Homo sapiens: one gene and its partners. The protein of the gene in region 2 purifies or fractionates together with the protein of the main gene of each other region. This does not show direct contact. Each region holds a gene or a part of one and is shown on either strand. Other genes may lie near its edges.

Region 1 (7,520 bases), on a different chromosome or scaffold from region 2:
ACATTATCTTATTCAACCCTTACTATAATCCCACATAAAAGTTATTACTAAACTGATGTTACAGATGAGGAAACTGAAACTCAGACAGATTACATCACTTACCCAAGGCCCCTCTAATAAATGAAGGAAGCAGAATTTAAACCCATTGCTAAAGACTACATGATATTTAATACTACACAATGTTGCTCTCTAAAGTGGAGTAGAGTTATATATGCCTTTCTCGGAAAAACAACTAAAGCCAAACTATTTTATTTGACTAACTACTGCCTATATTTAAATTACACTAATGTTGAAAGAGCAATAATAATGCACACAGGCCTGTGTTTTGCCTTTAGGCCCAATGATTCATGCTGAGGTGGGCAACACCGTCCTGATCATATTTAAGAACAAAGCCAGTAGGCCCTACTCCATCTCAGCCCAGGGTGTGGAGGAGATGGATAGTGGAAAGCAATTCCAAGTGCCCATGACAAAACCAGGTAAGTTGTGTCAGAGGTCTGCTCCATCTTGAAGAAGAACATTGGCGTCAACTCTTTTCTGGTCTCAGAGGTGTCTTAAAGAGCTCATCTTAATGTCAATGTGTTTCAGCCATCATCTAGTCACTCTGGTATGAGATCATCATTCATCCAATGACCAAATGTTTAGGAATTTCTAGGGTTCCATTAGAAACCTCCATTAGGGACCCCATTGTCAACATCCCCCACCAGAGTAGTACATTTGTTGTAATTGATGAACCTACATTGATACATCATTATCCCCTAAAGCCCATAATTTACATTAGGGTTCAGTATTGGTGTGTATACTCTAAGGGTTTTGACAAATGCACAACAACATGTATCCACCATTTTAGTCCTATAAAGAATAGTTTCACTGCCCTAAAAATTCTCCGTGCTCTGGTGTTTATTTTTTCCTCTTCCTTAACCCCTGGCAACCACTGATCTTTTTACTGTCTCCATAGCTGTTCTTACAGTAGCTCCCCCTTATCACGGTTTTGCTTTCCTTAGTTTTAGTTACCTGAATCAATCTTGGTCTGAAAATATTAAGAAATTTTGAGATAACTTCAATTAGAGACAATAAAAAGATATTTTGAGAGTGAGAGTCTACATTCACATAGCTTTTATTATAGTGTACTGTTATAATTGTCATATTTTATTATTAGTAATTATTGTCAATCTCTTACTGTGCCTAATTTATAAATTAATTATAGGTATGTCTGTATAGGAAAACACATAGTATATATAGGTATGGCACTGTCTGTGGTTTCAAGCATCCCCTGGGGGTCTTGGAATGTATCTCTCCTGGACAAAGGGGGACTACTGTAGTAAACATAAAAATTAACACATTAACTGCCTTCAAAATGAAGCATTATCCTGTGTATTTAATGACATTATTTCATTTAATCCTCACAACAATTAGAAAACTATGATGACCAACCCACTTTACAGATAAGGATACTAAAGGTTAGTGACATTAGGTAGCTGGTCAAATGTGGGATAAATAGGAAGTCATAGGGTTGAGATTTGGAACTAGGTCTCTCTGATTCTGGTTCTCACCAGATCTCACCTGCCCACTTGAGAAGCTTTTAAAAAACACTGGCACCAGAGTCCTAGACCCTAGACTCTCTGATTTCACTGTCTGGGGTGAGGCCTGAGCAGCAAGGGCTTACAAAGCTCCCTGGTGACTCCCATAAGAGGCCAAAGCAGAGGTCCTTGATGACAAAGATGTGCTCAAGGACAGCTCTTGGGAAGGAGATAAAACATTTAAGGAGGAAAAACAGTGAGGTATAAAATGTTTTTATTTCCTGAATACACACCAGTTGACAATAGAAAAATGCAAACTAGAGGGAAGGCTGGAGCCTGAAATGACAAATCTGCCATTTCATTTTGAAATAGTAGAAATCAAGATGGGAGTTTAATAAGAACATTTGTAATGAATGAGTAATTCTCTCCAGCAATAAACATTAATGAAAATATATAAAGACCTGCTTATATTTCTTCAGATAAATCATCTGAAACACAGATAATTCTAATAAATTTTTTCCATTTCATTTATTACAGGAGAAGTAAAAACTTATAGATGGAATATCCCTAAAAGATCCGGTCCAGGGCCTTCTGATCCCAATTGTATTCCATGGGTTTACTATTCAACAGTAAACTTTGTGAAGGTAAGGTGGAGAAAGCAACCAAAAGGCTTAAAATAATTTGGATGAAAGTTGACTACTTGGGTCATCACAATTTGGGTTGGTATATGTGAAAGCGTATAATGATTTAGAGCAAGGGTCTCATACTATGGCCCATTTACGAAATCTAGACATGCTGGACGTTTACATTGTCAATGGTTGACTTGAGTAGCTGCAACAGAGACTATATGGCCCACAAAGTCAAAAATATTTACTATCTGGTGATTTTTTTTTTCCCAAAAAAAAAAAAAAAAAAAAAAAGTTTGGTGACCCTTGACTTAAAGTATGGGGAATAAAAACAAAATCCCAATGTTTCAATTACCAAATTTAGAACTTAAAAAGATAAAAGGTTTGAAGCAAAAGAGGATATGTAAATATACAACAATAAAATAAATATAACTTAGAGTACAATTTATGTATGGTTTTGGATGTGTGAAATCTGTTTATTTTAAATGCATTATTATCAGGGCTACTAGGGCTCAGGAGAAGAAAGTTCACTCTAAACATAGTAACTGAAACTACAAAATTGTTTGAATGATTAATGATCTAACTTTGAAATAAAAGGCAAAGATTCAACATTGAATTTGAGCCAGGTATGTGTATGTAAAACAACCACAGTCTTTAATTACATGCCATAAACCAAAGTCCAATCTAAAGTCGTTATTTGATGTAAAATGTAAGCATTGCCTATTAAAGAAAAAAAGGGAGGGATTATCATAACCTTCCTCTTAGGTATTAGATGGCTTGTATTAATGTCTTTGAGTTATACTGGACAGTTCTAGAGTTCAGGAGATAGAAATACAAGGCACTTGAATAAATAAACTTACATATGAGAATTATGGGAAAATCCAAATTTATTTATGCATCACAACAAATACTTATTGAGCACTTGTGATGTGCAAATGACCCCACCAAATACTATGAGAGATGCAGATACTCTTGTCTTAAAGAAACTTATAACTTTGTGGGAAAATAATATGTCCACACTTGTAACTGTAATAGAGCTCTGAATCTGGTGAATTCTATAGGAGTGGCAGGCTAACTAAAGTACTATAGAAGGTTTTGGAGGGAGAGTCTAGGAAGAAAGAGCATTATGAGCACAGCTGAAAATAGGGAAGTAGAGGGAGTGTTTGGGACATGTTGAGAGTCCCATTTGGCTATCATATGGGGTCCAGTAGTAAATCAAGGGGTAGCCTAAGTCAGAAAATTTCATTAGGGGAGCACATGGAGGGCTCACAGACCTGCAAGGGTTTGTATTTAATTCTGTAGGCCACGGAAAATCACTGAAGACTTCTAGATACGGGAGTATAAAGATTACTGTGATGGTGGTCAACAGGATGGGCTGGAGGTGGGGTGAATCAGAGCTGAGAGAAGAATCAATTTCTAGTCCAGGGTGAGGTATTATGACCCTACACTAGAATGGTGGCAGGTGGAATGAAATATTATTAAATTACTTAATGGCTCTTTTAACTCAGTTTATTTTTTCTTCCAGGATACGTATAGTGGTTTGATGGGTCCTCTGATTACATGCCGAAAAGGAGTCTTGAATGAAAAGGGAAGAAGAAGTGACGTTGATTATGAATTTGCTCTCTTGTTTTTGGTATTTAATGAGAATGAATCCTGGTATCTGGATGACAATATTAAGAAGTATCTCAACAAAGATCCACGAGATTTTAAGCGCACTGATGATTTTGAGGAAAGCAACAGAATGCATGGTATATCCAAAGTTTAAAAAGAAGCCTATGTTGAGATAAGCTCATAGGAATTCCTGTAAATGTAGGAGGCTCCCAGCATCCTTCTCTGAGCCTTTCCTCCTTCCCAGGGGCACCTGGACTGAAGAAAGTCCTCTAATGCTTTCCTTCAGACTGAACCAGCCTAGCCACTGATTGGCTGGCAGCAAAGTCATTGAGGCTTTGTACTAACTTGTAGGGACATGTATTTCTGAATCCTGGGATCTCTAAGCTCTAAGACTGTAAAGTAATTCTTTAAAAACAAATCATCATTTATTGTCATATTTTTATAAGAATATGCCATAACTTCTATTTGTTTAAATTTAAGGGCCAGGTTTAATTGTCTCTGGGATATGAAACACTACCATCAAATTTCTGTTTTAATGTATCTGTGTTACTTCTACATAATTTAAGGTAGTTTGTTGGTGGGAGTAATGTGTTCACATTGACACATCCACAGTTTCTCACCAACAGCTATTTTTGACCAAAAGTGCACAAAAAGGCCTTGCCCAAGGTCACAAAGCTACTTGTTAATATAGATTAGAATATAGTAGCCTGATTCCCCATTCAGCTACTCTTTCCCCTACCAGTTTTGCTTTCTTCTCCTAAAGATGTCTTAGTATGCTCTCCATTTTTAATGAATGCAGGTCATTTGGTTGCACCACAATGCACAGAATCAAAAGTCAGTAGACAGTGGAGGAGTGGGAGTCACCATCATGTAAACTCAGTTTGCTTTGGTCATTGTTAGGTCATGAGCTCAGCCCGTGTGAAGCTCTCTTTTATTTTTGGAGATTCAGCCAGGCTTAAACTATTCTCAACAAGTGAAATATTAAGAAAATACCTTCTAAGTCACTCAATTTTTATTTACATAAACTTGTTTATGCCTTGATTTGTTCTCTGTAGAGTGGTATAAATCTGACTACCTCTCCAATGAGACTGTATTTCCCTTCATAAAGAGATTATGCTGAATAAACAAACAAAACACTGCCACCAAGATACGGCTTTAAAACTGCTATTTCTCTGTTCTCGCTCTCTTTGTAGAAGGATTTCTCAGTTATCTGAATTTTGGGTCTAGAATGGTAGGACACTGCTAGGGGTGAGTGAGATTGTTGCATGTTTACTAGACAGATGAAAATATCAGTGACCTAAAGATCTTCTGGAAACATTTAAAAAATCAGCTTATCTTTTAACTAACCAAAGGTTATTTTCTTATCACCTTTTAAAGCCATTAATGGAAAGATTTTTGGGAATCTCCATGGCCTCATAATGAACGAAGATACAATGACAAACTGGTATTTGTTAGGGATAGGAAGTGAAGTGGACATACATACCATCCATTATCATGCTGAGAGCTTTCTTTTCAAAGTAAGTATAAGGAAAGTGCTTTGGGAAAGACGTTTTTGAACTAACAAATTCAATGTATTTCCAGTGGAAAATAAGAGTTACTTGGCAATAATGCTTGTGAGGATAGGTGAGAATGGAACAGAATAATGTGATTGTACCGTTTCCCTGGTGGATATTTCTTTTCTTTTTTTTTTTTTTTTTGAGACGGAGTCTTGCTCTGTTGCCCAGGGCGGAGTGCAGTGGCACAATCTCAGCTCACTGCAAGCTCCACCTCCCGGGTTCATGTCATTCTCCTGCCTCAGCCTCCCGAGTAGCTGGGACTACAGGTGTGTCCCACCACGCCTGGCTAATTTTTTTTGTATTTTTTAGTAGAGACGGGGTTTCACCATGTTAGCCAGGATGGTCTCAATCTCCTGACCTCGTGATCTGCCCGCCTCGGCCTCCCACAGTGCTGAGATTACAGGCGTGAGCCACCACGCCAGGCCTGGCTATTTCTTAATATGTATATGTATATTATTGTGCTTATAAAAATCTCTCCAAGCCTCAGGTGAGAGTTTTCTCATTAGTGATCTGGGGATAACTCTGACCACCCTGGAATATGCTGTTAATATTGTATATGAAACCACGGACACTGACAGCATTCGTCCCTTTTCCTCACCCTTCCTTTTTTCTTTCCCTTTCCTTCTCCCCACCCTTTTCTTTTTCTGTGTGATTAGCTAACAGAATAGCTCTATCCAGTAAAGGAGCTATTTTGAGCTCTGGCCTAAGCCCTGAAACTTTATCTTGACTTTTGCCCTAGTGAGCTGGGCTGGACCATGTGTGACTTTCTACCCTCTAGCATCAAGCTGTACCATATGGGTGGTGCTCACTGTACAGCAGAGCCATCTGGGGAACTATGTAAAAACCCAACTGCCAGGCCCGACCCAGACCTGCTGAATCAGAATCTCCATGGAAAGGTCCAAATAGTCTGTCATCCGAAGTTCTCAGTGCTTTCTACAAGGAAGTGGAATAGAAAAGAACAATCATATCCAATGTGTGGAGAAAACTGGAATTGATCTTTTCTAGTTAGACACGAATAAACGGTAACTTTAATAAAACATTTAATATCCTTTCTCCTTTGTATATTTCAACGTTGTTTACGACACCAAGTATTAGCCTGCTATGATTAGAGTTTCACATATTAAATGGCTATGCTGCTTTTCAGAATTTGGCTTTTTTAAACTCACATTTTAAAAATTATATTAAAAATTTATAAAATTTAATACACAAAATTATAAAAATTTACATATACACTTTAAAAATAAGATATAATTTACATTGAATACAATTCACCATATTTAGTGTACAGTTCTCTTTTGATAAGCACATACAGTAGTGTAACGAACAACAATCACAATATAGAATACTTTTATTTCCCCCACAAATTTTACCATTGCACCCTCTAGTGTCAACTACTTCCCCATACTTAACACTTGTCAACCACTGTCTCTATAGTTTTGCCTTTTTTGAAAGGTTATGTGGAAATCATAGGTTGTAGCATCTTGAATCTGGCTTGTTTGATTTAACATAGGCATTCAAATTGTATCCATCTTGTTATGTGTATCAGTGGTTTGTTTCTTGTGACTGTTGAGTAGTATTCCATTGTAAGGATATAATGCAGTTTGTTTATCTATTCTCCTGTTGAGGAACATTTGAGTTATTTTCAAGTTTGTTTATTACAAATCAAGTCATTACAAACATTTGTGCACATGTTTTTGTGTGAACATATGTTTTCATTTTCCTTGAGAAAATACCTAGAAGTAGGATTGCTAAGCCATGTGATAAGTGTATGTTTGATTTCATAAGAAACCACCAAACTGTTTTCCAAAAAGGCAGTATCATTTTGCATTTCCAAGGAAATATACGAGAACTCCATATGTTGCACATCCACATATGCAGTTGGTATTTTTAGTTTTTATTTCATTTTTTTCCCTTAGGCATTCCCTCCTTGGGGAGGGGATATAGTGGTATCTCATTGTTTTTCATTTACATTTTCCCAGTGGCTAATGATATTGAGCATCTTTTCATGTGTTTGTTTACCATCTGTCATCTGTAAATCTTTGGTGAAGTGTCCAAATTGTAAGCCCATTTAAAAAAATTGGGTTACTTGTTTCCTTATTGTAGAGTTTGAGGGCTTTATATATTCTGGATACAAATCCTTTTTCAGTGATGTGACTCACAAATATTTGCTTCCAGTTTGTGGCTTATCTTTTCATTCTCTTAACAGCTTT
Region 2 (7,520 bases):
GTTAGCCAGGCATGGTGGTGGGTGCCTGTAATCCATAATCCAAGCTACTCAGGAGGCTGAGGCAACAGAATTGCTTGAACCCGGGAGGTGCAGTCTGCAGTGAGCAGATATCATGCCACTGCACTCCAGCCTGAGTGACAAGAGCAAAACTCCACCTCGATAAAAATAAATACAAAAACAAATATTTTAATTATAGAAAACATGTATTTGTGTACCTCTTGTGTAATTTAGATATTTAAATTCCTGGGGCTGTTAATTGCTTTCTTCTTGAGAGAACATGAGTGTCCTCAGATTGATAAGCATAGAATGAAGGAAAAAATATATACAAAGACATATAGTGAAACTGAAGAACATAAAAAACAAATAAATACTCCATAAGCCTCCGAGAATGAAGGCTTTAGATCACCTGCAAAGATCCAAAAATTAGATTGAAACTGATTCTCAACAACAAATCTACTTGAAAGAGGAGAATGGAATCATTTTTATATAATGCTGGCCCAAAGTCCCATATAAATTGCTAAACAAAAAGTTTAGAAATGGGAAGTTTTGATTTGTTTTGTGAGTATGACAACACGATTTATTTGCAAAATGAAACCAGATGTGAGCTTACAGAAGGCTATGTATGATTTTTATTTATTCCACTTAAACACAAATATTCATATGTTTTGATGCTGAAATATTAGTGCTTTTGCTTTTGTAGTAATGACACTGATAACACTGGGGTTTCTAGAAAAATGTGCATTAAGTAATCTTTATAAACCTCCAAGTTCTGATTTTCAAAACATACCGAGCCCCCCAGGTACAAAAGAAATGCTCTCATCTTGTCTTGAAGGAAAAAATAATTTTAAAACTAGAATTTCAATCTAAACAAAGTGATATTTAAACATAAGATCCTCAAAAACTATTCTCTGAACCTGAAGGCCTCAGTAGTTTTTCCAGACAAAGATGCACACAGAAACATTTTTGGAAGTACTTTTCAATAGAAAATTAAAAAAAAATTTTAAAAAGCTGCAGGCCAAAAGACAAGTAAGAATGAAAAACGAACTTGATTATGTGTGCCTATGACTTAAAAAGAAAGCCCTGATCAAAGAAAAGAGAAACAGAAAGTATACCAACATGGTGGAGGGAGGGAAGAAAAAGAATATGAGTTTACTAATGTAATTGTCTTAAAGGGTGAGATGGAAATATAAGTTTTAAAAACAGACAAGTAGGAGAATATAGAAGTGTTATAAATTGAAGTGAAGATAGCAGAAGCAGGCCAAAATATGTTAATTATTAGCCTATACATAAAGAGGTTAACTAGTTAAATGACAACTTTTATCAAATTTGATTTAAAATTTCTATATGTATGTTGTCAGTAAAAGATCACTGAAAGATGAAAAAAAATTTAAATTATCATGCAAGGAGAAACTAGAAGAAAGCCAGCTTATCTATGCTAGAATCATTTTTAAAAGATCTTAAGACAAAGAGTATTATCAGATACCACATGGTAAAAGGTTGAATTCCTGGGAAGATACAATAATTTAAATTATAGATTTATCTAATAATAATAAATGTATATTATTTTTCATTATTGTATAGTCCTTCATGATAATATAATGTTATATAATATATTTATCTTCATATACACACATATGTACACGGTGCCACAAATATATATATTTATATGTGTATGTTTATGTTTGGAAACATGTATGCATGATCACATACACACATAATATACATTATACAACTATGCATGTGAGCATATCTATATATTATATATATGAATTTGAGAGGAGTACAAGAAAATACCGTCTTATAATAGGAGGTTCTATATTATATCTTCCAATACTAAATGAACAAGGTAAAAAAACATTTTTACAAATTTGAGCAACATAATTGATAGCAATATTTATCTAACATATATAAATCCTGAAATCAACATTTAAAATCTCATATTCTAGTCAAGTACACTGAGATATTGCACCAGGCTATACAGAAAGTCTTCTAAAAATTCTGAACTTTGACAATATAAATCTATTTCAAATTGACTTCCATGCCTCTCCCCTATACATTGCCACTAGAAAAATAAAACATCATTAACTTTCAGGAGGGCAGGAAGTAATCTTAAAATGAATAAAAAACTGCCTTTCACATCTGGTATAGAATGATGCTAATGTAAAAGTTAAACATACTTATGAAAATATTGACACATTTGAATTATTTGAATTATTTGAATAATTGTGTTTGCAAAATGGATACATTTTCTACTATGTGTTTGCACTTGTAGAATAATATTATTTACAAAATGTTCTCACATATGTTTTTGTGTGAGAACATGTTTTGTAAAATTGAGATACCGTAAAATACAGCTGTATGTCTAGATGTGTTTTTTACTTAATATTATTTCCTGATACTTTGTGCACATCATTATCTTGTCTTATTTTATCTTCTACTTTCATTTTAGGTTCAGAGGGTACATGTGCAGGCTTGTTAAATGAGTAAACTGTGTGTCGCTGAGGCTTGTTGTCTGGTGATCCCATCACCAAGGTAGCGACATAGTACCAGATAGATAGCCTTCCAACCCACATACTGCTCCCACCTTTCCTCTCAAGCAGTCCCCAGCGTCTACCGTTCCCATCTTGTGCCCATATGGATTCAATGTTTAACTTCCACTTATAAGTGAGAACATGCAGTATTTGGTATTCCTGTGTTAGTTCACTTAGGGTAATGTTCTCTAGCCGTATCCATGTTATGCATATACAGCGTGGAATACTATGCATCCATAAAAAAGAATGAAATCATTATCTTGTCTTTTGCCCAGACCCCAATGGCCACCAAGCTTTCTAACCTCAGAGAATATATACTCAGAGAATTTGTTTTAAAATCTGCAATGGTCAAAATGCATATTCCTTCATTCATGCCCCAGTTGTAGAATAAAGGATATCTACTATCTTTGAAGTAAGTAAAGAATTGGAAGTATTAACTGCAGTTTTCACTTTTCTGAATATAGTTGATACCAGCCCTACTGCCCTCACCCCACTGCCCTGAAGAACCAATATCGATTTTTCCCTTGTGATTTTGTGGCTTTCAAGGAAGCATCTAGATCTTTTCTATAAAAAATACCCACAGTACTCACCTTACTGGGAATTTCTTCAACAGTAGTCCAGATCTTGAGATCTTCAGAAATGTAGGAAATGAGGATTGTTTTGAATAGGGAAATCAGTCAGTAAAGCTCTCAGAAACTGAAATACAGGATGTTATAATCTCCTGAAATGCTAAGAAAATGAAGTATTTTCAAAGACAACAAGGGAAAATGGCCCTTCTTAGAGTCACTTGACTAGTGCTGGCTTCCTCATACTCTGCTTTGCCCTGGGGAGAGAGAAGTTGTGAAACAACGTGCAGACTCCTCCCACCCATATTTTTTGCTTTCCATCCTGTTAGAGAAAATGAACAGTTTCTTTCCTGTAGGTATCTTAATCAAAGTAAAATTTGTATCAAAGTTATATTTAAAATTTTTTTTCTTACAAATGTTGATATCTGAATGGAGTTCCAATCTTAGAACTTTCTTAACCAGCAGACTTACATGTGGGACATTAGGGACCTCTATTCCGATGAATGATTGTCAAATATGAGAGAAGCAAGGTGGTTTCTTCTCCCTCCTTTCCTGTGCGGTTGCAGGGGGAGATCTTGGTAGGAGCATCTATTGCTACCAGTACTTTACTGCATCTCCTGCATGGGAGAATGTCTGCTATGAAATAGCAGTTGGTTTAAATACTACCTGAAGCATTCACCCAGTTATTAATAGTTGACAAACCTAGGGCTTTCCAGATCAGAAAGTTATTATGAATATATAAATCCTTTCTCAAATATATATAAAGGAGTTTAACACTAGCTGTCCTCTTGACTATGACTAGGTTATTTTACCTCAATGATTACATTCATGATTCCTCAGGTTTCCTTCATTATTCATGGAAAAACACAAGTGGATAGTGGGCTCACAACATGACAGCATCGAAGCCTTGAAAATCCTGGAAAATGCACTGAACTTCTGGTAGACCGAGAGTCCTGTTAAACCCTTTGCTCAGCAGTATTTTTTCTGTTAAGGGCAGTGGGTGTCCTTCAGAGTACTAAAACCCCAAGATGTCAAATAAACGACACCAACTGGCAGATGATGTTGTGTTAACCCAGCAGCAGATCTGCAAGCAGGATGTGGCCATGAGTGGAAAATGGGGCCCGAAATACAGCTGTAGGGGAGAAAACAAGTTTTTTTTAAATTTCCCTTTTTAGGTTATTAGTTGACACTCTCCTGAAAACAAACGTCAAATTAACAAAAGAAAAACAAGCAGTTTATTAATGTGTGCTCTACTCATCACAAGGGATAGGCCTCAGTTCAAAAGTATTTCTCTCTCCAGGCTGTGGCTTAGAAACCTTGTTTAAATAGTATTTCAATAAAGAGCCATACGTTCTATATAGTGAAAAGCAAAGGAGAAAGCAGTTCCAGTCATTTAAAAGGTGGGAAAACGTGGGAAGGTAGTAAAATCTGTTCCCAGATTCCTCAGGTTCCTGGTGGCGCCTTCTCCGGGCTGAAAAGCAAGTGCTTTCTCCAGTAAATACGGATTTATGTCCTGCCATCAGGCAAATAGTGCCTGAGGCAGCATGTTCCCCTCCATTTTCTGTCTTTAACTTAACAGTCCTAAGTATTTTGAGAAGTATTTTTGGTTTCCTTCACAAATAATACAAATGATCTGAGGCCATCTACAGAACAGAAGAAAGCTGATCGCCTTAGTACAAACTAGGGTCATGGAGAGGATAGTTGATGTCTGGATTTGGAGCCATATGATAATTTTATCAAAGCAAAAGTAAGTTAAGAAAAAGCAAGGAGGATCTGGAAGGATGGCCACAAAAATACCTTCGAGTGTTCATGGTTTTCTTTTATAGGTTTACGTTGCTGTTAATGTAGAGACACTAAGTTGGTCTTAAGATAGTAGGTAGAGAGGGATATTAGGAAGGTCAGGTTACCCCAATTCAAAGGTCAGAGAGTAGAGGAAACTTGGTAGAAATTACCATGTTTCAGGACATTTTTGTTTCCCCTTTTTGGTAATCATTTCATGTAGAGTAATGCCTTTGGTTAGGACTCCAGCATACAACATACAAATTACTGTCACCAATGAAGACAATTCAGAACATTGCTCCATAATCCATACTGTGCAGATAAAATTGTAATAGATGAAGCAAAGAAATGCTTTAAAAATGTGCATTTGTGCTGATTCTGAAGCAGTGGGCAATAATTTGCAATTTGTGCCATCACACAGAAAGCTCACTAATAGAACATACGAGAGCTCCTGATAAGGGGGTAAAAGTCTTGGATGGACCTTCATGACTTTTTATCATCTGAAGTACTAATTCCGATGCTCATTCAAAGTCCTCAGGAAAAGTTCCCACCCGATTAATGTTCTAACCAAGATGTTAGTAAATTACTGCCTGTGGGACAATACTAACACACCATCCACTTTTGTAAGTAAAATTTTATTGAAACACAACTGTGATTACTCACTTATGCATTGTCAATATCTACTTCATGGTGCAATGAAGAGTTGACTAGCAACAGAGTCCATCCGGCTGCAGAGTGTAAAGATTTTGCTGTATGGCTTATTATAGAAAACGTTTGTCAATCTGTACCCAGTCGTCAGTCTAGGAGACGGCAGAAAGCCTCTAAGGAGAAAAGCAAAAATAATTACTTATTTTTATTTTTGCTTTGTTAAATCAAAAGCAATGTTAAATCAAGTTTAGCCTAAAGCTGCCTTCTTACATATTCTAAGTTCAGCCTAAAGGTTTCTCATACAGCGTGAATGATGGCCTAAATGGAAGTGTAAACAGACTGTAGTATATGCTTGTGTCAATCACCAAGTTTTGGCCAATCAAATGTGGCCAACTTGTTCAAACCGCGTTCAAATAAGGCAAACTCCGAGCTATAACCAATCCAGCTCTTTATCTCATGTCCATTTTCTGTATCTCACTTTTCTTTTTCTCTTCATAAATCTTCCACTATGTGGCTGTGCTGGAGTCTCTGAGCCTACTCTGGCTTGGGAGGCTGCCTGAATAACATTCACTGCTCAGTTAAACTCTTTTAAATTTAAGTCAGCTGAAGCTTTTCTCTTACACAATCACACCAAGAAACCACGTTTGGGACTTTTAAAGTCCATTGTAAACCCCTGGATAAAGCCTTGTAATAATTATTGTGATCTCAGAGAGGAAAATGGAAATGGAGAGTGTTAAAACCTTTCTCTAATTATCCCTAAGAGTCAGAACAAAACCCATTTGTTGAGAGCCTCAGTTAGCAAGATTGCTTTATGCATTCATGGCCATCAGCCACCTCAATCAGGTGCCTTCTCCTTTTGTCTCTCAAGTAAATAGATTTCTCTTTCTCAAGGAAGAGGGAAAGGTGATTGAGTTTTAAATGTTGAACCAATCTTATATCCCTGAGATAAAACACTTTTAATGATGCATTATAATTTATCATATTGATAAGTATATTGGTAAGTATAATTTTTCAATATTTTAAAAGTGTTTTTGCATTTATTTTCATGTGAGAGTTGGTTTTTGTTTAGTTTCTGTCATATTGATAAGTATATTGGTAAGTATAATTTTTCAATATTTTAAAAGTGTTTTTGCATTTATTTTCATGTGAGAGTTGGTTTTTGTTTAGTTTCTGTCATATTGATAAGTATATTGGTAAGTATAATTTTTCAATATTTTAAAAGTGTTTTTGCATTTATTTTCATGTGAGAGTTGGTTTTTGTTTAGTTTCTGTGTAATATCTTTAATTTTGGTGTGACAGCAAACTGGCATTTCTAAAACAGATTGTATAGACATGGTAAACTTTTATCCTCAAATGTCTGATGGAATTCATAAAGTGTCTATTCCCAAAACTTTCACTACGGAAAGATTTTTGTTACAACTTCTCTTTCTCTAATAGATATAAAAATATTTAGTTGTTTTATTTCCTTACAAGACAGTTTTGGTAAGTTGTGTTTCACAGGATTTTTTTTGTAATACATTTTTGTTTTACAGGAATTACGTAAGTAAACTTATTTGCATAATATTTTTCATAATTTTTTATTACCATTTTAATATCTGTAGTGCCATCCCTTTACATTCCTGATACTGGCCATTTATATTATCCTCCCTTATTTTTCTTGATTACTCTTGGTAGACTCTCTGAGGAGGATGCTCAGGGAAGTTCAAAGGCAAGAGGAGAGACAAAAAGGACAGTAAAGGATTCTGAAGCCTTTGGCACCGACATTTAGGACAAAAAGTAAATAACGTTTTAACAACTAGCCAGACTAACAAAAAATCTCATACTAAAGGTCTGTTTATTTCAGTTCCTATTACCTGATCATATATGTCTTCCTTTTGACAAAAAAAAAAAAGAAAGAAAGAAAAAGCAAGTTATGCTAAAGACAAGGAAAAACAGAGTCTCAAGAGTCAAAAGAACCATTAGAAGCAGACTCAGATATGATCCTCATGTGGAAATT
Region 3 (8,520 bases), on a different chromosome or scaffold from region 2:
TGTTTTTCTCTGCTATATCCTCCTCAGCACCTGGAACAATGCTTGGCACAAAGTAGACATTTAATAAACATTTGCTGAATGGAAGAATGGATAGTTGGATGGATGAAGGAATGAGACAGAAAGGGATTGTTTAAATTATCTGGATCAAGTGTCCTTATATTGACAGGTTCAGTATCCTTTCACTGGGAGGCAGTCTTTGCCAGGCTCACTGTGTGGCCCACAGACCACAGGCATCAAAGTTACCCAGGAAGCTTATTAAAAATGCTTATCACTGGGCCGGGCGTGGTGGCTCACACCTATAATCCCAGCACTTTGGGAGGCCAAGGCGGACGGATCACGAGGTCAGGAGATCAAGACCATCCTGGGTAACACAGTGAAACCCTGTCTCTACTAAAAATACAAAAAAATTAGCTGGGCATGATGGTGGGCGCCTGTAGTCCCAGCTACTTGGGAGGCTGAGGCAGAAGAATGGTATGAACCCAGGAGGCAGAGCTTGCAGTGAGCTGAGATCGCACCACTGCACTCTCCAGCCTGGGCGACAGAGCAAGACTCTGTCTCAAAAAAAAAAAAAAAAAAAAAGGCTTATCACTGGGCTTTTCACACCAGATCTACTGCACCAAAATCTTGCAGTATAAGGCGAAAGAAGCTGCCTTTTACCCAGCATTCCCAGTTGACTCTTACACATGTTTATGAACCACTGCTTTAAGGGAACTGGAATATGACCATGGACCCTACGCTGCCTGTGTAGGCCTTATAAACACACAAGCCCTTTTTAAATTAAGAGTCACCTTTCAGCTATACACAGCTAATATGGTAGCTCATAATTAATCTACTGGCTATTTAACTCTGCTCTCACCTGGCAATCTAAAAAGAGTAAAAATTTAAAACTATGTTGCCCTGTTTTGACCATAAGTAACTGGAAATTACTTTCGGGTAGCCTTGTTTTTCCAAATTTAGAATTAAACATTTTAGAAACACTTTCCTTTCAGTCACCATTCTATAATTAAAGACAACTTGAACATTGCTCATAATGGCTTTTCATTTTGCTTAGGTCAGAGTTTTCACATTCTCTTATTCAAGATCCCTTACCAACTTACCAACCTATCTTTCCAGCCTTCCCCCCAGAAACCCCCTCGTCTGTCCAGACCACACTGACCCAAAGACTTTTCATTCATTTCTGCCTCTGCTTTTTTACTGAAATCTTTCTTCCCATCCAGCAGGCTCTTCCTTTTTCTTATTAAATCACCAAGCATCCTTCAATTGACATGTCCCCCCCAAAAGCCTTTCACATCTGAGCATTCTAGTTGGATGTGAGCTCTTCCTCCCAAACCTTTCCCAGACTAGTGCTTTTTTCCCACCTATACACATTGAACTCTCATCCACTGCTTGGCATTGATAATTGTCTCTTCATGTGTTTTGCTTCCAAGGCACTGTTCCATATACCTCTCGGTAAGGTATCCAGCCTGATAGGTGCATTGTCAGACAGGAAGTAAGCAGATCAATAAATATTAGATTATTTGAAATTCCCATAGATCCTGTTTTTCACCTGCTTAGCAAGCAGAACACACTGTTAATTATAGAAATAATAGTTGATTAATGGCCAAGCTGGTCAGAATGAGAGCCCACTCTTCCATTACAGGTAATCATTGCTCTTTCTGATTCATGATTGTGCTGGAGGTTTTTGTGGACACCCTGTGAACAATGCTAAATCTCAGCCAGTGACTTACCAATGAGGGCAATTAGTCCCCAAAACACCACGGAGGATAACATGGCGGGGAATCTTATCTTCCAGGACCTGCTCTGATTTGAAATAGAAACTGGTTAATTTTAAAACCTGAAAATTTCCTAAAGAAAAATTTGCTTTGATATTTTAAAAAGTTTAGAGTTATTTCCAATTCACTACTCATTTCCCTGTTTCAAGATAGTATTCTCACAGGCTCAGTACATAGTTTGTTGGCACACTCTCTTTCTTAAGCATAAACTCCTAATCTCACTTCAATCCAATTTCATATTGACATGAGTCATGCGTATCTTACATATGTAACTAAATATACACTCCCATCCCACCTCTAAGCTTGGTAACACCACAATTTTGTTCCCTTTCTTTTTAAAAAAAAAAATACTGATCTTTTCATTCTAGTTATTCACCCTACCCCTGGCTTCAAGGATCAGTTTTGGTCTTTCATTCATTTATTTAGAAATGGGATCTTGCTCTGTCACCCAGGCTGGAGTGCAGTGGCATAATCATAGCTCACTATGGCCTCAAACTCCTGGGCTCAAGCGATCCTCCCACCTCAGCCTCCTGAGTAGCTGGGGCGACATATGCGTGCCACCATGCCTGGGTGTTTCCATTCTTATACCAGGGTCTCCGTAGGGAAAACAAAATAAAACAAAATACCAACAGGAGCATGAGAACGTGACTTAGAAGAGGTTTCCTCTGCTCCATTTCTTCCTCAATCAACTCTATTCTTGGTTTCATTCAAATGGTAGCTTATAAGTTTTACAAGACATAAGAAGGCCAGCACTAACCTTGTTTGCAACCTTACAGAGAAAATCTCCCCTCTCTGTTTGCAAAGGTCTTCTGTACTCAGCAGCAAACTGCACTTCAAGCTTTTACAAAGCGACGGCCTTTGTCCTGTAACATAGGCTTAACAATTGGAGAATCCATTAGTCAGTAGATCACTGCGCACCTGGCTTCAACAGAGTAGACATCAGCGTGGCTCTACTGCTGTGGAGGAAACTTTTAAACACCAGCATGAAGACTCACCTGGCTTTTCTTACCTTCGTCCTGTACCAATGATCATTAGAGGAGCTTTATATATGGTTTAAAACCCTCTCTTTAAACCATTGACCTCATTAGGCCTGGTTATAATAGTACTTAGGACTTAGGTGACCCAATTAATAAGAGGATTTCAAAGGGCTTATTAACCACTATTAATTAATTAACCTAATGAACCCCCAAGTTGCTCAGGAGGCATATTTTGATAGATTGTTTCTAGATATCTAAAATTGTGCCAAACAGCTTCTAAATTTGCGAATAAGAAACAGATAATTCACTTTAAAAGGATAACAGGAAATACTAGCAATTTTTATTCTTGGATTGGTTATTTACCTGAAATATTGGGTCTCCTGCTTTTTGTTCCCATTCCAATGTCATATGATCCCCGTACCAGTATGTCACATGATCTCAAACCACTATGTCACATGATCATGATAGGTGAACTTGGCTCCTTACTCCAATCCCACTTCTGAGAAAAAGGTGCAAGTGTGGCCACCTGCTCTAGGAGATCAATGCAAAACCAGGGAGTAGCAACGTGAGTGCTCATTTGCCCATACTTGCTAAGGATATGGGAAAAAAGATTATAGCCAGGGATGAAAACTTCTTCAAGAAGAGAGTATCTTTCTTCAGGCTTATGTCCAAAGGAAGAGAGGAAGCATATTGTGCAGCCCCAGGAACAGGAAATGGAAGGGACGTTCTTGAAACAGGCAAAGCACATTGCGCTGAGGGGAGGAAGAAGTCTGGTCTGGGTCCTTCCACAAGCGTGTCCAGTTTCTCAGACTGCACACAGTCCTCCCCCACATCCACTGAGTGAAGAAAGGTGGAAGGCAGCTGTACAGGGAACAGGAAGACAAAACCACAGGCAACTTCCCAGCTCCCTGGCAATAAAACCACCTCCACTCCCAGGAGAACATGCCCTCCCCAAGCTGAGGTCTGCACAGTCCACTGGCATTCACTTCTGCCCTGCCTGCCTTCCTGCTTGTAGAACAGACGTCTCTGGCATGGCCTCTAGCCTTCCATCCCTGGAAGAGTGGCAGGGCTGTTCTGAGCCAATGGATGATTCCTACCTGACTCTCAGGAAAGTGACCCATGGAGGGTCTGCTCCACCACCATCAACACTGCAGTCAGGACCACTCTTGAATAAGGGATATTGCAGGAGTCTAACTGCCCTGAGGCAGGCCTTAGAAACCCATAGTCTATGACCCAGCGACATTGTGCCCGTGACCCACTTCACTGCAGGGTGAGTAGAGCCACTTACCTGAGGCTTCCAGGCTAAGTGCAATGAGAAAGCTCAAGAAAGGGAGATTAAGAAGTTACGAATGATAAGTTAGGTAAAAGAGAGTAGGTGGAGGCTGGGGCTCTCCCTACATGCACTGGAAGAAGACATTGTTAATAAAACATTTAAAGCACTGTTGAATGTGAAGAATACTTATCCTTCTGCTCTCAGTTAGTGGGGCTACGAGTCCTTCTAGGTATGAGGTCCTTAATGTCCAGGCTTCTGCAACTCAACCAAAATTGTTTTCAAACTGATGTGGATTGTTCTGTTCACTCAAGCTGTGAGAGAACAATTGAACATTTATTTGACACCCAACATTAGTCAGGTTCCTATGGATATTATATGACTCAATCCTCCACTGGCCCTGTGAGGCAGGTATTATCCCTTATTTTAGAGATGAGGAAACTGTGACTCAGAGAAGCTAAGTAACTTGTCAAAGATGGCACAGTTAGCATGTGACAGAGCCAGGATTTGAATCTAGGCCTGTAAGATTCCAAAATCCATGCTCTTCCACTGTATCGAAGTGCCAGCACGATGGACAAATGCCTCTGCAGAGCAATCATTGCAACAGGTCCAAATCAATCTGGATACAAAGCATTGTCCGTGGTCTGGAAAAATAACACCACTCACAGATTTTTATACCACTATCTGTCAAATGTTTGTAGGTGCTGTTGTAATTTCTAAAATGCAAATTAATATAAGTTAACTAAGTCCAAAGTGGTTTTTTGTCACTTTATATTTTCTCCACCAGTAATAATAATGTAGTTAATACGCACTGACCTTGTATGGTATGACTGGTAGAATAATAGGAAGGGGCATAACCTAAGTTTGTTACATTCTGAAGCCTAACTCTTAACTGCAGTACCCTACTGACCCAGTGGATGGTTAAGTGTGGGTACTATTGTATAATGACCTTAGAAATTTCTTGTCACTAAGAAGAAATGTACTGAATAATTCTCCATCTCTTCCCAGGGATACCAAGAATGACTACATGTAAGTTGTACTGTTATTTCCAGGAGGGGCTTGAAGGGAACTTGGCACCTGTCATAATCTCTATCAGTCCCCAAAATAAAAACACAATCTATATGCAAGCAATTTCTGTGCTATACAAATAAAACTCTATGGCCTGGTCCCCTACCCCTCAAATCAGTTGCCTGCTCCTAAGACTCTTCAGTGCAGCAATTCTCTGGCAGCTTCTGGGGAGTCCTAACAGATTTGGGGTTCCTGGCTTCAGTGGTGGAGACTCCAATCATCCCTAACGACTAAATGGCCTCAGCAATTGGAAAACTTCAATGGGAAAGTTTAAGCAGTACTGTCCTAGTTAGGAGGAGAGGAATGATTATGAAAACTGAGGTACTCTGTATAGCCAGGGAAGTAGATTCTGGTAGGAGTTCCTGGCAAGACTTCTCAATTCATACCACACAAAGACCTGCCCTTGTGCCCTGAGCTACCCTAGGTTAGCACTTTTGGGAGTTAAAGGAATCCAGCACCTCAGGCTCCCTTGGTCCCCTCGCCCTCTGCGTCCCCACCTGCCTCCCTCCCAACACTAGTCTGTGCTAATAGAGACTGGGTTGTCTCCGCCATGTCATTATTTGTGAATCCCAGGCACAGCTTTCCCTTCTCAGGAACAACAGCCAAGGAGGATGACCATAGCCAACTCATTTAACCTCCCTGAGCCTTAATTTTCCTCATCTGTAAAATGGAGATGATAATAATGCCCCATGACTTTGTTTTGAAGACAAAAATAAATTTTATATGTAAAAACATGTTATAAACTACAGTGCTTCATAGAGATGCCAGTTACTATCATGATGGGTTTGCACTCAAGTCCTGATGGCTTAGCTTCTTGTTGATTTATTCATTTGTTTGTTTATCCATGCACTCAGGAAAAATAAACAGCTGAATTATAGGACAGGAAGTAGGAGGTGAAGTCTCTCTCCAGCCATGAAGAAAACTTGGCAGGACAAGCAAGAGCTATTCATTGTCAGGACTCTGTAGCCTGCCTGGTAGGAGTGGAGGAAGGATAAGTTCAGAAACAGCCACACAAGCAGCTGCAGCCCAAGCATCTGTTTCACAGCTCTGAAACCTATAAAATGGGGGAGCTGCCCAAGAATATGTGGCAAAGGTACTTTGGCGCCAATGGCTGGTAAGAAGGCAGAAGGGGAGCCCTTCCATAAAATTTCACTAAAACATTCAACTTAACCCCAGGATATATCAATGTCAAGCTTTAACTGCTGTGTGCTTTTCTTGTCTTGGTTTTAATCTACTATATGATAGGTAAAATGCAGGGTATGCCCTGTTGAAGAAGCCACTTATATGGTTGCATTATTGGTCTTCCAATGTCAAACATTTGACCAACATTTCAGGAAAGAAGATATACAAATGGCCAATAAAGCTCATGAAAAATTGGTAAACATCTTTACACATCAGGGAAATGCAAAATAAAACCAAAATGAGACAGTATTTCACACTCTCTAAAAAGGCTAAAACCAAAGACTAGCTATATCACATATTGGTGAGAATATGAAACAAAACAGAACTCTCATACATTGCTGGTTGGAGTATAAAATGGTATGATTGCTTTGTAGTACTGTTCAGCAGTTTCTAACAAAGTAAATAACTATATGCCTCAGGAATTTTATTTCTAGTTATTTACCCAAGAGCAATGAAAAAAAAAAAAATGTCTCCCAAAAGACTTGTATGAGAATCTTCACAGATTGTAAGTTCTGCAAAGAGAAAAGAAAAAAAAAGAATTTTTACAGTGCTTTATTCATAATAGCTCAAAACTGGAAACACTCCAAAAAATTCATCAACAGAAGAATGGACTAACAGTTGTAGTATAACGATATAATGGAAAAATACACAAGTTAAAAAAAAAATCCAGGAAAAAATTCCAATGAACCTGGGCTGGGTCAGGTGCCCACCTCTGGATCATTCAACCATGTCTAGGAATATATTTGTTTGAAAAAGGGACTCCCTGTGGTTTGGAAAGGAGAAGGGAGAAGTCTGAAACAAAATTTTAAAGTAACGTTTTCATTTTGAAATAGTTTAAATTTCACAAGAAGCTTCAAAAATAGTACCAAGAGTTCTCATGTACCCTTCACCCAGCTTCCCCCAATGGCAATGTCTTACATAACTATAGTACATGTCAAATCCAGAACATTACCATTAGTATTATACAATACTGTAAACTTAGGTACAGACCTTATTTGGATTTCCCCAGTTTGTTTTTACACGCTCTTTTAAAAAAAATATTTATTTATATTTCAGAAGCGTATAGTACTGTGAACGTTTATCCCACAGGTAGATGCAAGTAACCATCACCATAATCAGGATACAGAACTGACCCATCACCATAAAAAGACTGCCTCATGATATCCCCTAACTATGTCTTTCATTGTGCCAAAAGTAAACTTTTTTTTTTTTTTTTTTTTGATGGAGACTCACTGTTGTCAGCCTGGGCTGGAGGGCAGTGGCATGATCTCGGATCACTGCAACTTCCACCTTCCAGGTTCCAGCAATTCTCCTGCCTCAACCTCCTGAGTAGCTGAGATTACAGGTGCCCACCACCACACCTGGCTAATTTTTGTATTTTTTAGTAGAGATGGGGTTTCACCATGTTGGCCAGGCTGGTCTCAAACTCCTGGCCTCAGGTGATCCATCTGCCTCAGCCTGCCAAAGTGCTGGGACTACAGGCATGAGCCACCGTGCCCGGCCAAGTAAGCTATTTTTTAAAAACAGCTTGATTTGAGGTATAATTCACATATCATAGCCTTCACTCATTTAAAGTGTGCAATTCAATGGTTTTTAGTATGTTGATAAGAGTTTTGCAACCATCAGCATAATCAATTTTAGAGTATTTTCATTATCCATGGAAGAATCTCCACAACCATTAGCAGTCATTCCCAGTTTCTCTCCCCTCCCTCTTCTCTCCTGTTCACCCTCTGACCCCAGGCAGTCACTTACCTAGAAGTCTGGATGATTTTGTAAAAAACTGCTCTATAGTTGTTCACTATACCTGTGATGGAGAGAAGAGCTGGAGCAGTATCTGGAGAAGGACTTGTGTCAAAGACAGTCCTTTTGTCATGGTTTAACCTGGGAGTGACTTGAATATAATCAAATGCTGTAGAAAATGAGGATACAAAAAACAATAGGATTATTTGGTCAGGTAATGATGTTGAAGACGCTAGTTCAAAAGCTTAAGCATAGAAATTGGCCTGAGGCAGGAATGGGACTGCCTCTTCCATTGTAACAGAAAGAAAAGAGAAAAAAATCAGATAGCAATGCAGTTCAGTGTATAGAGTTGATAGGAGAAAACTGAGGGAGTTATCTAATGATTTTTAAGTCCTTTGTGAAACAGGAGGTCAAATCATGTGCTGAGAGTAAAAACTACGTGGACTTAGAAAACGGAGAGCATGTGGAAAAGCTACCCGGTAGAATTGGAGAGACAGCTGAAAGAGAGCCA
Region 4 (8,439 bases), on a different chromosome or scaffold from region 2:
AAAAAAAAAAACTGCACAGACATCCTCCCCTGCCCTGCATCCGGCTAGCCCCAACTTACCCATCCAGCCCCAAATCCCTCCTCGTCCTACCTAATTCTCTGGCCATTAGATACACTGAACCAGGAAGACAGCCCCTTCTTCACTCCCCACTCTCCACCCATTCCCTTGTACATGCTCTTCTCTCCAGTCCAGCGCATCCTTGAAGGCTTGAATACAATTTGTCCCCTTATCTGTGAGGTGTTTCCTGTACCCATCCCACCTCTGAGTTGAATGTATCCCTCCTCCTGCAGCTTTGCATACACTGTATTTCTACAATAGCACTATCACAGTGCTTCATACAGTAGCACCCCCCATCCGCTAAAGATACATTCATACAGGAGTCCCCTCAATCCTCAGGAGATGCATTCCAAAACCCCCAGTGGATGTCTGAAACCTGTTTCTCCTACACATACACACTTGTAATAAAGTTTATAAAGTAGGCACAGAAATAGATTAACAATAATAACACAACAGAATAACAATATACCGTAATAAAAGTTATATGCATGTGGTCTCTCTCTCTCTCAAACTATCTTGTACTGTACTTACCCTTCTTGTGATGAAGGAACAGTGGGAGGGCAAGAGATTTCATCATGCTACTCAGAACAATGCACATCTAAAACTTATGAATTGTTTACTTCTGGAATTTTCTGTTTACTGTCTTTGGGCTGAGGTTGACCATGGGTAACGGAAACCACGGAAAACTAAGCTATGGATAAGTGGCTGTAATTGATATTTTTATCTGTCTTCTCTCCCACCAGAATGTGAACCCAAAGGTCATGCCTCACTGACCTTTTTATCTCCAATATCTGGCACAAAGTAGGGGGTCTGCAAATGTTTGTGAAATGAATGACCTCCTCTAATTCCAGAGCCCTGCCATCTCCATTCTTCCCCCTTTCACTACACACCCCCCTTTCCCACATTAAAATTCTGCTTCAGCAGCAGGCTTCCAGGGCTCTCTTTAGATTAGACATTCTTGCCCACACACATTACCTAGATATCTCTTGGCCTCCCTCCACACACACACAATTTTGGGGGGAAGAACAAAATTCCATTTCTATAAAGCTGGCAAAATCTAATTCATCCTGATGCCAGCCAATTTATGTTTTTGTCTTCTCAAACCAATTTCCCATTCTCTGTGTCTTTTCTATTCTGATCCTGGGGGGGTCCAAGTCTGAAGTCATTCCAAGAAGCCTCAATACAGACCATGGACTCTCTTCGGGGGTTTGCAGTGTCTTCTGTGGTGGTCACACACAATCTGAGTCCAACCTGTTACTCCCCTGCAGGAAGTGATATCTAAGAAGTCACCCACTGCCTTAGGCCTTCAGTCTCCTTACCTCTTAACAAGGGGAAAATATTTTGCCAAGTTTACCAGGCTATTTGAGGTTGAGGCAAGGTCACATAAGTACGAGTGTCTCATTAGCAAAAAGCTCTATAAAAATACTATGAAAGAGCACAGGAGCCAATGTGAAAAGAGCTCCCAACAGCCAAAGCCACAGTAATTTGAGCAACAAAATTAAGTAGTATTGGATTATAAACCAAAGTATAAAATAAATGTCCCTGAGTCTACACTGAAATTAATGATTGAATAAATTAATAAATTGGGGGAAGAGAGAAACAAATCTTCCATGCAGAATAACTGCAAACAATAATATGTAGATACTTGCCCTCAAGAAGGGGGAATATAACTCTTGGCTCCCTAGGTATGGGCTGCACTTAGTGACTTCCTTCTAAAGAGGACAATACACGCAAAGAGTGGAAAAGAGACTAACTGTACAGTGGAGAAACCTGAAAAACACTATCTCACCCAAATCAATATTAAGTCATAAATCATGTTAGTACATGCCCTTGATACGATGGGATGATAATGGCAATCTACCTCTGTGGTCTTCCTCCCAGTTACCCATAAGCCCAGTCTTAGGAGAAAAACATCAAATTCCAATAGAGGGGCATCCTACAACATACACGACCAGTATTCTTCAATGCTGTCAAGGTCATCAAAACAAGTCTGAGAAACTCCCACAGCCAAGAGGAGCATAAGGAGACATGACAACTAAATGTAATGTGGTAACCTCCATGGGATCATGAAACAGAAAAAGTACTGAGGTAAAAACTAAGGAAATCTGAACACACTATGGACTTTGGTCAATAATAATGTATTGATATTGGTTAACTGCAACAAATGTACCACACTGAGGTAAGATGTTAATAACAGGGGATCCGGTTTGGAGCATGTGGGAAGTTTGTACTATCTTCTCAATTCTTCTGTAAATCTAAAAGTGTTGTAAGAAATAAAGTCTACTTAAACAATAAAATTGCAATTTTTGAAACATAAAAAGCCTATTTTTTTTAAAGGTGATTTTTTTGAACTTGGGGAAAAACATGTTAGGGATTATGATTTCAGCTAAGAGTTAAAAACAGGAGGTTAAGGCATGCATAAACGAATGTCATTCTCCCCTCTTTTGAAGTACACACAAATCGTGGGTCAAAATTTGAAATCTACTGGAGATTTGGAAGTGTGTCCCTCCCATTTACTCCACAGAGTTAAATTTACACTTTTTTTCTAAGGCCAAATAGGGAGAAAATCAGTAAGAAAAATGCTAATGAGCTGGAAGGAGTGAAAGCACAGCTCCAAGTATTTGTGGCTAAACCGGTTTACTCCGAACAAAAAAAAAAAAAAAAAAAAGAAAGAGAAAGAAAGCATGACACTTTGGTCAGGGAGCTGGATTAGTCGCCTATCTACCAGGCTCCAAGCAACCGGACGGTCATCCAGGCCCCGCTTACTTCTGGTTCCGCAGACTAGAATGGATGGGAGTCTGAGTAGGATACCAGAAAGCGAGAAAGACCCAAGAGGAGGGGGAGAATGTAAGGACAAGCAAACAGGAGGGATCTGGCTGGCAGGGAGGACGCAGCGAACTTGACCCCCTCCTGAGCCCGCCCGGGGGCCTGGCCCCGTTTTGAACCCGGGCCCGGCGGCTGCGTTGGGTCGCCCCAAACCCGGTGAGCGTACGAGACTGTTGCTTCGCTGTATGTCTCATGTGCACCCCCTACTCACCGGTCCCGAGCTCCGGGCCGCGAATCCCGGCCGGCACCCCTCCTCTCTCACGGCGGTCTGTTCCGGGTCCCGCTCCTGCACGAGCAACCAGCGCGACAGCTCGTCCCCGCCCCGTAATCTCCCGGCTATTCGGGGCCCTTCGCCGAGATTTCTCCCGGACCAGCCCCGGGATTGGCTCCTGCCGAACTTCGCCATCCAATGGGAACCTTAGTCTCTTTTACGTCACTGATCACCGGGCAAATCCCCAGACAGCCGCGGGCGGTGGGGCACCAGGGGCAGCGAAATGGAAACTGAAATCAGGCGGGACCGAGGCTGCGCCAAGAGCCGCAGCCTGAGTTTGGCGCGTAATTGGGGTGGCCTGTTACACGGTCTAAGGGAGTAAATGCTAAGGCTTAGGAGTCACCTACGTAGGACTCTTGAGAGGGCAATAATCCCCTTTCCACCTCTCGAGACCCCTCACTGCCCAACTCTGGCCTTATGCTGGATCAGGGTCCGAGGGCGCTTTGAGGCGAAGGTGGCGCTCGCCAGGTGCTCAACATCAAATACGAAGTCCCCGCCCCTAACGTGGCCTAAATTTGCTTCCAGGACAAAGCAGGATTTTAGCAAGCAAATACTCTCAGAGACCTATTTACGAAAATTATTACTTCCTAGGTAAAATAACGTTCAACCAGACAGCCATTGTCGCCATTCGACGGAAGGAAAAACTGAGGTTCCAGGAGCTTAAGGGTCTGGGCCCAGTTCAGGGGGGTTGTTTTCGCTCCTCGACGCTGAATTTAGAAACCAGAGGCTACAAAGCGGGCCGAGACTTGGGTTCCCCAGGTCCTTGGTGGGGAGGTTTCCAGGAGGCTCGGGCGCGCCCCCGTCCACGGCCCCGGAAGCTGACGTCGCCGAAGCGTACGCCGCTGCCCAGCCTGCGCTCTCTTCCTGCTCTGCCTGCAGCCGCCGCGTCCGGTCCAGCCGCAGGGCCATGCCCTGTGCTGCGGTTGCCGTGTCCCAGGCGCCGCCGCGTCAAGATCCCCGTCTTTCCCGGCCAGCCAGGCGGCAGCGGCATTCAGCTCGTGCACTGGGCTGGCAGCAGGCTGAGAAGAGGCGGCGCAGGTTCTCCGGGTCAGCCAGTGCCCTGCTCCTAAGGGTAGAGATCTAGCTGGGGACACTGGTCGTCCGCCTAGGCAGTGGTGAGAGGGTGGGCTACAGTTGTTTGGGTATTCATGAATGGAGGAGCTCAGGGTCCTAGACCCTAAAACCTGCTGAATCTTCACCCCTCCTCCGCTGGGGGTAGGGAAATTTGCACTGCATTTAAGCAATGTATAGTGGAGTGGGTGGGACATTCAGAAGAAACCACGCCCACATTTAACACCCGCGTCCTTCCCTTCTACCCCAGCCCAGCATTTTGTCTTTTTCCCCTTTGTCCAGCAGTATAACTCACGCTGCCCCTCCGGGCTGAGAGGAGTGTAGACCTCACCTGCTGAGCACAACTCTGGCGGGCCTGTGCTCTGGAGGTGGTCTCAGCACCTACCTAGACCCTCTTGATACCTGCTTTTTTAGTTGGTGGTGTGGGAAGAAAGTGTGTTTAACATGCTCCTTAAATAATGCTCTGCCGCCGAGCGCGGTGGCTCACGCCTGTAATCTCAGCACTTTGGGAGGCCGAGGTGGGCGGATCACGAGGTCAAGAGATCGAGACCATCCTGGCCAACATGGTGAAACCCCGTCTCTACTAAAAATACAAAAATTAGCCGGGCGTGGTGGCGCGCACCTGTAGTCCCAGCTACTCAGGAGGCTGAGGCAAGAGAATCGCTTGAACCCGGGAGGCGGAGGTTGCAGTGAGCCGAGATCGCCCCACTGCACTCCAGCCTGGGGACGGAGCGAGACTCCGTCTCAAAAAATAATAATAAAATAAAAAATAATGCTGTGCCACTAAGCGTTTTCTCCCTGTCCTGAGGTCTTTGGCCTATTCACAGACCATTCTGGGCAGACTCCAGCCACAAATCCACCACCCCACTTAAAATTCTCTATCCTCTCAGCACACTTAGAGGGGCATGGAAGACTCTTGCAGGGGCTGGGGCTCCTGACATGACAGCTCTGCTTAACTCTCTGACCTCCCTCATGCCACTTCTCCCTCGGTCCCTGTGCTTTCACCTTACACCTGGTCTTGAAACTCCCTGCCCCAGCCCCTTGCATGGCTGCCCGCTTCTTGTCAGTCATGTCTACATCTCAGAAAGGTCTTCCTCCCTCACCCAGTTGAAACCAGTTCCCCATCATGCATTATTCTGTTTCCCTTTCTTCATGCATTTGTTGCCATTTGAAAGCACCTTGTTCATTTCTTTGTCAATGTGTTTATTTTCGATCTTCCTCCCCCTCAGTGTACGCCCCAAGAGAGTTGAGACAACACCTGTCTTCCATGCACATGGCTTCCATGTAAATAAATGTTTGTTAAATGAAATGAGCTCAGTGTGGGCATTTCTTTTTCTTTTTGTAAAAAAATTTTATTATTATTACACTTTAAGTTTTAGGGTACATGTTCACAACGTGCAGGTTTGTTATCATTTAGCATTAGGTATATCTCTCCTAAAGCTATCCCTCCCCCCTCCCCCCACCCCACAACAGCCCCTGGTGTGTGATGTTCCCCTTCTTGTGTCCATGTGTTCTCATTGTTCAATTCCCCAGTGTGGGCATTTCTAAAGCTGCCTGGCCCTGCTTGGCTGGGTATCAGTCATGCACTGAGTCCCTCTCCCACCACACTACATCTTGATTGATACAGCTTCTCAAGTCCAAGTAAGGGTAACAGAAATGGATGCTGGGAACACAATTTCTGCTTTGTGTTGGAGGAGACAGCTTTGGAGCAGCTTTGTAGCTTTGTGCCCCTCTACAGCTTCCTGCTTCATTTAAGGTTCTGAAGCAGAGTTGAAATTCCTTCCTCCAGCTCTCCATTTCTGTGGTCATACCAGATGGAGGCCAAGGCAGCATATGGGGCTGGGTAAGAGTTCTGCGTTGAATTCTCCAGTCTGCCACATTCTGTGAGGCTTTGGGGCAGCTGCTCAACCTCTGTGTGCCACAGGTTCTTCTTCTGTAACATGGAAGTAGCTAGATCTGCTTCGTACGGTTATTATGAGGCTTAAATGTAAAGCTTTGAAATAGTGAATCAGTGCTGACTAGGCCAAAGGGTATGGTATAATTATTTGCATTTGAAATAAATATCTTAAATGGAGCAAGAAGATTTAGTAGGTATATTCCTTGAGCAGCTCTGGTTTAACCTCAGGAGGAACTAAAGGCCGCTGTCTAAAAATGAGTTTGTATATGACAGGGTACAGGAAATGCCACCCCAAAATATGGCACCTTGGAAATTGAGAAAATAGCAGAAACAGGAAGGTTTCTCTGACCTCTTGCTCCTTTCTGCCCTGAAGCAGGCCATAGAAACTAGAGTTCCCCTCGCCCCTTCTTCCCTGAAGCAGGCCACAAAATCTAGGAAGGTCACTCTCTGACCTGCTCCCTCCTTCTCCCTCCTTCATCTGAGGCCCCTTATATAACAGGCATCCTCTCCTATGCCCTGAGGGAGGGACTGCCACACAGGTATGCCAAGAAGAAACTGAATAGACAGGCCTTTCCAACTTCTCAGTTTATCACCGTTAGCTCATACACTTTTGTCCTTGCAATCATACATCTGCCTGACTGTCTATACAACTACACAAATGTCCCCATTTCTTTGGGTTTTCGTTTCTGAAAGTTCCCATGTCATGTAAAACTTGGATAAAATAAATGTGCATGCTTTTCTCTTGTTAGTCTGTTTTTTGTTATTGAAGTCTCAGCATAAACCTTGTGATGGGTAAGGAAAATATATTAGTTTTTTTCCCCTAAGTTTAGTATAAACATATTGAGCTAAATCATACCATTCAGAATCTCAGGATTTTAAGAATACTAGAGTGCTTGGAAAGAGGCCTCCAAACAAAAAACAAACAAACAAACAAACAAAAACTTGAAAACATGAAACTCCCATTGGTAAAGATGCAAAGAATCTGTTTGAATCTTTTGTGTGAAGGATACCTTGGTATTAGGGCCAGAATGAATAAATGAATATCTGTAAAGGAAAAGGTAAAAGTTACATCAATGAAACAATTTTAAGCCAACATTTCTGTTTTCTGGTAGAGGCATAAGCTAATAAATAATTTTGTGCTACTAAAATCTGCCTGCTTTTGTGCTAAGAACTGGCTGCAGGATAAAAAATAACAGGTTTAACTGTCCTTTTTAAAAGGAAAAAAAGGCATTTTGAATGCTAATAGCATTAACTACTGGGTTTTGAACAGAAAGCGTAGGCTGAACCAATCTCTTATATGACTTGGGATGTCATTTAAAATACTTTGTATTCCAAATTTGGTGACTTTTAAATGTCTATTAGCTCAAAAGTTAGTGAAAATATATTGTATAATATATAATGACAAATTCAACTTAAAAAAAATTTTTTTTTTTTTTTTGAAACAGGGTCTCACTCTGTCACCCAGGCTAGAGTGCAATGGTGCAATCATGGCTCACTACAGCCTCGACCTCCTGAGCTAATGCAATTCTCCCACCTCAGCCTCCTGAGTAGCTGGGACAGATGTGTGCCACCATGCCCGGCTAATTTTTGTATTTTTTGTACAGACAAGGTCTGGCCATGTTGCCCAGGCTGGTCTCAAACTTCTGGACCCAAGCAATCCTCCTGCCTTGGCCTCCCAAAGTGCTGGGATTACAGGCTTGATACAACGCGCCCGGCCGACACTGTAGCATTTTCTAATAGGCCTACGTAAAAATTATCTAATTCTCTAGGGTAGTTTAACTTTGATTTAGTATTTTAGGGTATTTAGAGTACTCCTTAGGGGTAGACATTAACTTGTAGAAAAGTGATATCAATGGAAATGATTCTTGGTCAATAGCAATGTCAATGAATTTTGTTCAGTGGAGGTATAGAAGATGTATGTCCAGTGTATGTATATTCAATCTTCCAAATTCTCTTTGAACTAGTTCTTTTTTTACTAGTCTCTTGTTAGTACATCTTTGATACATGCTCACTTTTTCTTTGTATAGGATACTGTCATTGACTTTTAAAAATTATATTTTGGCAATACATTGCATTTTATTATTATGTCTCTTAATCTTATTATAACAATCTACCCTTCCCTTATTTTCATTCCATTAATTTGCTGGAGAAGCCAGTTCATTTATCCCATAGAATGTTCCCAGTACTGGATTTGGTTGATTGCTTCCTCATGGTATCAATTAACTTGTTCCTCTATTTCCTGTGTATCTTAGATAAGATTCATAAGATAATAAAGGATGCTATGTAGTCATCTCTCATTCTAAGCAATCAAACATTT

What was found.
Region 1: the proteins of PYHIN1 (region 2) and HEPHL1 purify together in Homo sapiens (affinity purification with mass spectrometry; 3 studies listed by BioGRID and IntAct, with this or other methods). This does not show direct contact.
Region 3: the proteins of PYHIN1 (region 2) and LYG2 purify together in Homo sapiens (affinity purification with mass spectrometry; 3 studies listed by BioGRID and IntAct, with this or other methods). This does not show direct contact.
Region 4: the proteins of PYHIN1 (region 2) and TRIM26 purify together in Homo sapiens (affinity purification with mass spectrometry; 4 studies listed by BioGRID and IntAct, with this or other methods). This does not show direct contact.

What each region holds. Positions count from the first base shown.
Region 1 is NC_000011.10:94,100,860-94,108,379, forward strand, and holds part of HEPHL1 (ferroxidase HEPHL1 precursor), read left to right. Parts: intron 1-335; coding exon 336-476; intron 477-2,054; coding exon 2,055-2,161; intron 2,162-3,668; coding exon 3,669-3,891; intron 3,892-5,131; coding exon 5,132-5,271; intron 5,272-7,520. UniProt on the Homo sapiens protein: Is a copper-binding glycoprotein with ferroxidase activity. It oxidizes Fe(2+) to Fe(3+) without releasing radical oxygen species. May be involved in the regulation of intracellular iron content.
Region 2 is NC_000001.11:158,927,378-158,934,897, reverse strand, and holds the start of PYHIN1 (pyrin and HIN domain-containing protein 1 isoform alpha 1), read right to left. Parts: upstream 3,347-7,520; 5' UTR 3,122-3,346; intron 1-3,121. UniProt on the Homo sapiens protein: Major mediator of the tumor suppressor activity of IFN in breast cancer cells. Promotes ubiquitination and subsequent degradation of MDM2, which leads to p53/TP53 stabilization.
Region 3 is NC_000002.12:99,252,491-99,261,010, forward strand, and holds the start of LYG2 (lysozyme g-like protein 2 precursor), read right to left. Parts: upstream 3,177-8,520; 5' UTR 3,113-3,176; intron 2,648-3,112; 5' UTR 2,530-2,647; intron 1,801-2,529; exon of another isoform or gene 1,796-1,800; 5' UTR 1,771-1,795; coding exon 1,728-1,770; intron 1-1,727. UniProt on the Homo sapiens protein: May act as a potent antibacterial protein that may play a role in the innate immunity.
Region 4 is NC_000006.12:30,210,211-30,218,649, forward strand, and holds the start of TRIM26 (tripartite motif-containing protein 26), read right to left. Parts: upstream 3,197-8,439; 5' UTR 3,095-3,196; intron 1-3,094.